Regions from separate parts of the Homo sapiens genome. Here region 1 is reported to be linked to region 2. The links are microRNA targets in miRTarBase. Many come from high-throughput screens and were not tested one by one. Region 2 holds a microRNA gene; the other region holds the end of a gene's coding sequence.

Region 1 (3,000 bases), not on the chromosome of region 2:
TCCCTCTTTGTAGACAACCCCGCCGCGAACTGGATCCACGCTCGCTCCACCCGGAAAAAGCGCTGTCCCTACACCAAATACCAGACGCTTGAGCTGGAGAAAGAATTCCTCTTCAACATGTACCTCACCCGGGACCGGCGCTACGAGGTGGCCAGGATTCTCAACCTAACAGAGAGACAGGTCAAAATCTGGTTTCAGAACCGTAGGATGAAAATGAAAAAGATGAGCAAGGAGAAATGCCCCAAAGGAGACTGACCCGGCGCGGTGCTGGCGGGAGCGCTCAAGGGCAGCGGATTTGTTGTTGTTGCTGTTTTCCTTTGTGGGTGTTTGGTGCTTGATTTCCAGAAACTCTCCAGCGACTTGGACTTCTTCTTCTTTTTTTTTTTCTTTTTAGATAGAAGTGACTGTGTGGTTGGTCTCTGAGGTATTTGGGGGACTCTGTATTTGCTCGTTTACGTGTTGGAAAAACCAAGTGGCTTTGGGGTTTCGCCCTATCCCACTCCCTCTCTTTCCTGCTCCATTGGTTCCTTAAGAAATGCTATATTTTGTGAGTGCAAGCTGGCTTGGGGAGCCCTCTCTTGTGTAAATGTCCCCCATGTTTCTGAAAAGTGCTGTAGTTTAGTCCCCTCACCCCCAGCACTGCCCAAACAGGGGCCAAGTGCGCCCCAATTCCAAGAATGAAGGCAGAGCGACAACAGTGCGGACACCCCGGCTGCTAGCCCACGGTGAAGCCCGGCGGGGTTGCCCACCAGTTGCGAAAGCCCCCTTTCCTCAGGGAGCACGCGGGACCTCGGTGGAGATCTCCAGTGAGGCTTAGAGGAGCCCAGGGCCTCGGGCGGGTTGGGGTTTGTCCTCAGTGCATTGGACGCGCTGCTCTCTCCCCTGAAGGCTGGGCTCGCGTGGGCGGCCGCGGGTGGTGGCCCTCCCGGTTCCTGCCCGAGGACCAGTTGTAAATGTTACTGCTTCCTACTAATAAATGCTGACCTGATCAAATGGAGCCCAGACGCTGGCCCTAAACATTGTGTGCCTGCTTTCTCTGCCTCTCTGCAAAATATCACACTCAGGATATTTCTCCTCTACCCCTGGGAGTGAGACATTGTTAAAAATTCAGGGCCCTTCCACCTGACAGATCTCTCTGATGTGTCTCTGCCTTCTCTGCCTCACATCCCTTTGTGTAGGCAGATGCAGCAGCACAGACCCTGTGGGGGGACATTGGTGCCTCCCCAAGCCTGGTTCAAGGTCCTCCACGAACTCTGTGCTTGGGCCCAGTGTTAGCCTTGCAGAAGCGCCCAGAAGAGCCAGCAGGCCCCAGAAGCCAGGCACTTTCAGGCTGGGGCTTGGGTACACAGCACCCTAACCTTCCCTGGGCTCCTGAAGCCCCAGATGCCAAACCCCTCTCCAAACAAGGGAAAGGCCAACTCTACACTCTGGAGCAACTGTCCCAGCTCGGTGGGGCTAGCTGGCTCCGGGAGGTCCCAGCTGGTCAGGCTGTGAGCTTCTGCTCCTCCCCACCAAAGCCCCAAAGTGACCTTAGCGATCAAAATGGTCAAGGCTCTCCTCCCCAGCCACCTCCATTTCACCGCCCCCTTCCCCCCACCCAGCTTCTGTGTATGTTTAGCCCCCAGCTTGGCCCTCTGAGGGCTGCATTCAGGGGCTAAAATGAAGGTCATTGTAAGTGAGGGTTTGGGTGAGCACAGCATTTGCAGGCCAAAGAGGCAGCACTGCCAAGTGGCCTGAGCTGGGTGGAAGGTGGGGGCGGTGGCAGAGATCTTGGGGGATCCCAATGAAAGAGGGGACGCGAAGAAAAAGCATAGGGGGGCTGGGAGGGAAAGCCAAGGAAGGCCCAGATCCGGCAGAAGGTGCTGCGCACCCCTGCCACTGTGGCCAGCTGGGTACCTAGGGCTCTTTGAAAACAGGAAGAGCCGAGGTGTCATAAAGCCATCTAGCGGGCCAGACGTCTGGAGGTAATGAGTTTACGACAGGCCCAGTGCTTTGCTTTGAAACCATCTCATTTTGATGTTTGTGTTTGTGGGAGAAAAGGAAAAATGCAGACAAAACTGGGTCTTAAAATCTAGACAATAAAATATAAACAAGACTGCGTTGGACCAAGAAGGCAGGGGCATGGGAGCCCCCAGGTGAGGTGTGAGCACCTAGGAAGTAAACATGAAAGAGGTAGGAAGGAAGAGGTGAATGAATTTCTGATTTTTGAAATGAACCAGGTAATGGAAGTAGCCTAAGGAGATGGCATTTTACAATATTTTGACTATGACCACGGTTTAGCTGGTTCTTTAGAAACAAACAAACAAAAAAATTGGCCTGTTATCTGGGGATAGGGTGGTTAGTGATCTTAGGTCATTTACCCAGGTGAGAGTCTCCCAGAAGTGTGGTTCGCGGGAAAAGATGAAGTTAGATGCCTATTCACAAGAATCTCTGGCCCTCCACTCCAAACTTTGAAGCAAAATGTTGTTGAAATTTATGTCTATTCACTTATAAAAAAATACAATTGTTACACCTAAACTGGAGGAAAGCAGTTTTGAAGATGAGTAAAAAGATTAACCTAACAGGAAACACTTAAGCCAATTGAATAGTCATTGCTTTTAAAAAAAATTCTAGTGGAATGCTTAGTTCAATGACTTTTGATATATATTTTTAAAATCCCATTTATTGTCCATAGAAATTCCAACAAACAGAAGCGCAAAGGGACTTTCCAGACAGCCACTCAGAGATCCAGCAAAAAGCTTTTGATTTGGCTTCGATTCCCCCCAAAATCGGCCACCTAAGTGGGCCCCAAAGCATTAAAGTTACAGTGTTAAAGTAGCAAATATTCATGATTTAATCCTAAAAGTAACAGCTGTAAGAGAAAAACAAAAACATAACAATACTTGATTTCTGTAATTTCTTGGTTGCCAAAGTGTCTGGTTCCTCTGGAAAATAAAAAGCCTCTTGGCAGTTGATATTTAGAAAGTTGTAGGTTTTGTTAAATCTAGCCTGTCCTATAAT
Region 2 (3,406 bases):
TGCAGAGAGCACGGCACACAGCAGGGGCCTAATAAAGACAAACTGAGTTAAGTCGAAGGTGAACTGAAGGTGGGAGGGGTAAACTCTGGGTAGCAGGACTAGGCCCCATCCAGCAGGTTTTCATTGAGAAGCTTTTCTTTCCGTTTAAAACTGACAGCCTGCAACCTATTTCCTGAATCCTTAAGCCTCATAGGTGCCCCAAAGGAACAAATTAACCAGAGCACAAAAGAGTGAGTGAACAGTGGGACTGATTTTTATTCTAAGAAGCTTCTCTCTTTCTGGGAACCAAATCATCTGCTGAGAGCAGAGGATGTACAGGCATAGGATAGGGGCTGAAGAGTGCGTGGGAGACCCTGGGGAGAACGAGGAGAGGAAGTACCAGACTACTAGACATGGCAGGACTACTCAGCAGTGTAGAGGAAGCCCTGAAGGGAGAGGAGGACGGCCAAGGGGCTTTGAGGCTCACGATGTGTGAGTCATTTTCTCTAGTGACGTGCTGCATGGAGAGAGAGCCAGGAAGATGGCCCAGGGCAGATTGTGTGGTTGGCTGGGCACGTAGACTCATGCAAACCAGGTGTGTCCTCGGGATAAATGCATTTTCCTCTTTTCTAGCTCTTCAGTGGTTCATGTGCCTGGAGTGAATGATATTCAGTCCTCTTCTTCCACGGGCCAGAACATGTCCCAAATCTCCCGGCAGCTAAACCAGAGTCAGGTGGCATGGACAGGGAGTCGTCCGCCCTTTCCGGGACAGGTATGGGCATCTGTGAGGGCATCTCCCCTGGGTGACCAGAGAGGCAGAGCACTCTGGGAAGTGTTTTCTTTGGATTGCGGTTCTGAGGATGGGTCGGCTCCTAGCTGGAACCAACCACCCTAACAGCAGCTGGCTACTCAGGAGCACCATCCACCCTCAGGGCTCTCGGAGAGCCAGGTGCCCAGCCTGCAACTTCAGCAGCCTTTTCTCCTTACAGCCATGCCCTGAGGCAGCTGGCAGGGAAAGGTTGGGCAGGTTGAGACACCTCATCAAGAATGAGCCCCTCACTACTCTGGACCTCTGGCTGCCCCTGCGCCAGGAGGGCATGAAACCACCAACCCTTGTGACATCCCCAGACCCTCATAGTCACTGTGAGGGTGGGTGTTGATTGGGCTGAGGGAGTTCTAGGTGTTCATAATGCCAAGGCCTTGGTAACCAGACTCCAGAGGGCCCGGATCCTCGTAGCCCTGGGGAGTAACTTCAACCAGACGTGCCCCAAAGATCCTGCAGTTCCTGGGCCCTCACACACCGGGCTGATCCCAGGCCTGTGCCTAGCCAGACAAGAGGGTCATGGGGAGTCACTGTCAACCCAGAGCAGGCACTGCCCCTGCGACCAGCCTGGGGCATCGGTTGGGGTGCAGGGGTCTGCTGGTGATGCTTTCCATCTCTTTGCTTTGTCCTGATTGTAGCAAATCCCATCTCAGTCCAGCAAGACTCAGTCATCTCCCTTTGGGATTGGAACGAGCCACACCTACCCGGCAGACCCCTCTTCCTACAGCCCCCTCTCCAGCCCAGCTACCTCCTCGCCAAGTGGGAATGCCTACTCCAGTCTTGCCAACAGGACTCCAGGGTTCGGTAGGTGGGGAATGAGGGAGTGAGATTCTGGGAAAGCCAGCACAAATGCTTTCTGAACAGCCTGAATTCAGGAGGCTGAGCTCCAAGCTCCCAGCTACCAAAACAAGGTCTGGAGGTTTCCAAGCACCTCCTCTCTCTCTGGCTATGAGGAGGCCTATGGTGTTCCTAAGAGACTGGATGCTTAGGCCTTGGCTTTGTGATTTGACTTTATCATTTTCAAGGCATTGGGATGATGTTGCTGTGCTGTGAGGTGATCTGAATACCATTTTAACCCATTATGGCCCTGGCAAGGATTTTCAGGTCCCCCAAGTCAAAAACCTTATAGTCTTGTTTCAAGAAACTAGAGAATAGCTATAGAGACAATCAATTGCATAAATAACACTGCAAAGTTTTCTGTCTCTTTTAAATATTAAAAACACCTATCTTACTTTGTTAACAAAACCTCAGGCCATAGAGGGTTAAGGAACCGCTGTGTCCTGTGCATTTCTCAGGATCCTGGGCCTTGCCCACTCTCCGTGTGTGTAAGGAACCTCCTCAGCATGTCTCCCAGGGCTAGGGTTCCACTCCACGTCAGGACAAGCTCATAAGAGACCCGTGGTCCTGGTAAGAAGTCCAAGCTGGTGCCTGCTTTCTCACAGTGAGGTCACTGGGTGACACCCAGCAGTGCGGCTCATAGAGCTTTTCTCTACAGAATTGATTCCTCAGATGAGCGTGAATCTGAGCCCAAACATCTGAATTTCCACGTGGCAAGTTAAAAGCTTCCATTAGAACTGCTTGTCTGTCAGCCTTATGAACAATTCTGTGCAGGCAGGGCGCGGTGACTCACATCTGTAATCCCAGCACTTTGAAAGGTCAAGGTGGCAGATCACCGGAGCCCAGGAGTTCAAGACTAGCCTGGGCAACATTGCAAAACCCTGTCTCTACAAAAAAAAAAAAAAAAAATTAGCCAGGTGTTGTGGTGCATGCCTGTAATTCCAGCTACTCAGGAGGCTAAGGTGGGAGGATCATTTGATCCCAGGAGGTTGAGGCTGCAGTGAGCCATGATCACACCACTGCACTCCAGCCTGGGTGACACAGTGAGACCCTGTCTGAAAAAACAAAAGAAAGAAAAATGCTGTGCAGAGCCCCTAGCACACAATGGGGAGTTGTCATCTGCTGCCCAGCCCTCCCCACCTCCTCCACTAACAGCAGCACGTCCGTCCCACTCAGCCCGAGGTCTTGGGGCACAGCATTTCCTGAGGCCATGCTTGTCCCTCCAGCCTTAGTCCCATTTACTTGCAGTGTGTCTCCTCTTCGTCTGTTAAGTATTCTCGCCACGTGGTTCACTGGAACCCAGTTTAGAAGCACAGCACCCTGTCTGAGGAAGGAGAAACCCCATAGCAGTTGCTCTCAAGTCAGCCAGGCACTCAGCACGGTTACCACCTTGAGCCCAGAATCCTGTTTCTCAGGATAGCATCCACCTTCCTGCAGTCACACGTGAGATCCTTCTCCACATCTGGTTCCCCACCCGGGTGTGGAGAGACCCCTTCACCTCCTCCTGAAGGTGGGCCTCATAGACTCAAGGCCTCCTGGGTACCTAGTCCTTCCCGGAAGCCCAGGGACCATCTGGCACCGATCTACTCAAAAAAACCTTCAGTGCCAGGCCCCGAATCAGCCCTGGAAGACAGGAGACCTGGTCCCCACCCAGAGAAGGACACAGTCCAGAGACTGGGTCAGGGGAGACAGACAGAGGTAAAGGGAGGCAGGCAGGACAGTCTGCAGGTGCGGCAGCCATGGTCTGCGTGGGGGCCCTTGTGGCTG

Evidence for each region. Region 2 holds the annotated microRNA hsa-miR-5572 (GUUGGGGUGCAGGGGUCUGCU, at 1,381-1,401, shown strand). A microRNA usually pairs through its seed, bases 2 to 8, with sites in the 3' UTR of a target mRNA and lowers its output. Matches are read on the target gene's strand: a 7mer-m8 pairs with bases 2 to 8, a 7mer-A1 pairs with bases 2 to 7 and ends in A, and an 8mer does both.
Region 1: miRTarBase lists HOXD9 as a target of hsa-miR-5572. The part of its 3' UTR that is shown has no 7-base or 8-base seed match.

The regions. Positions count from the first base shown.
Region 1 is chr2:176,123,921-176,126,920 of GRCh38, forward strand. It overlaps HOXD9 (homeobox D9), which reads left to right. Exons shown (of 2, transcript NM_014213.4): 2 at 14-1,017. The coding sequence ends at 255. Among named protein-coding and RNA genes, the nearest start is that of HOXD9, 2.7 kb to the left of the region's middle.
Region 2 is chr15:80,579,799-80,583,204 of GRCh38, forward strand. It overlaps MIR5572 (microRNA 5572), which reads left to right and starts at 1,305; the gene lies at 1,305-1,441. ARNT2 (aryl hydrocarbon receptor nuclear translocator 2) reads left to right here. Exons shown (of 19, transcript NM_014862.4): 16 at 613-751; 17 at 1,441-1,606. ARNT2-AS1 (ARNT2 antisense RNA 1) reads right to left here. Exons shown (of 2, transcript XR_007064732.1): 2 at 232-2,963.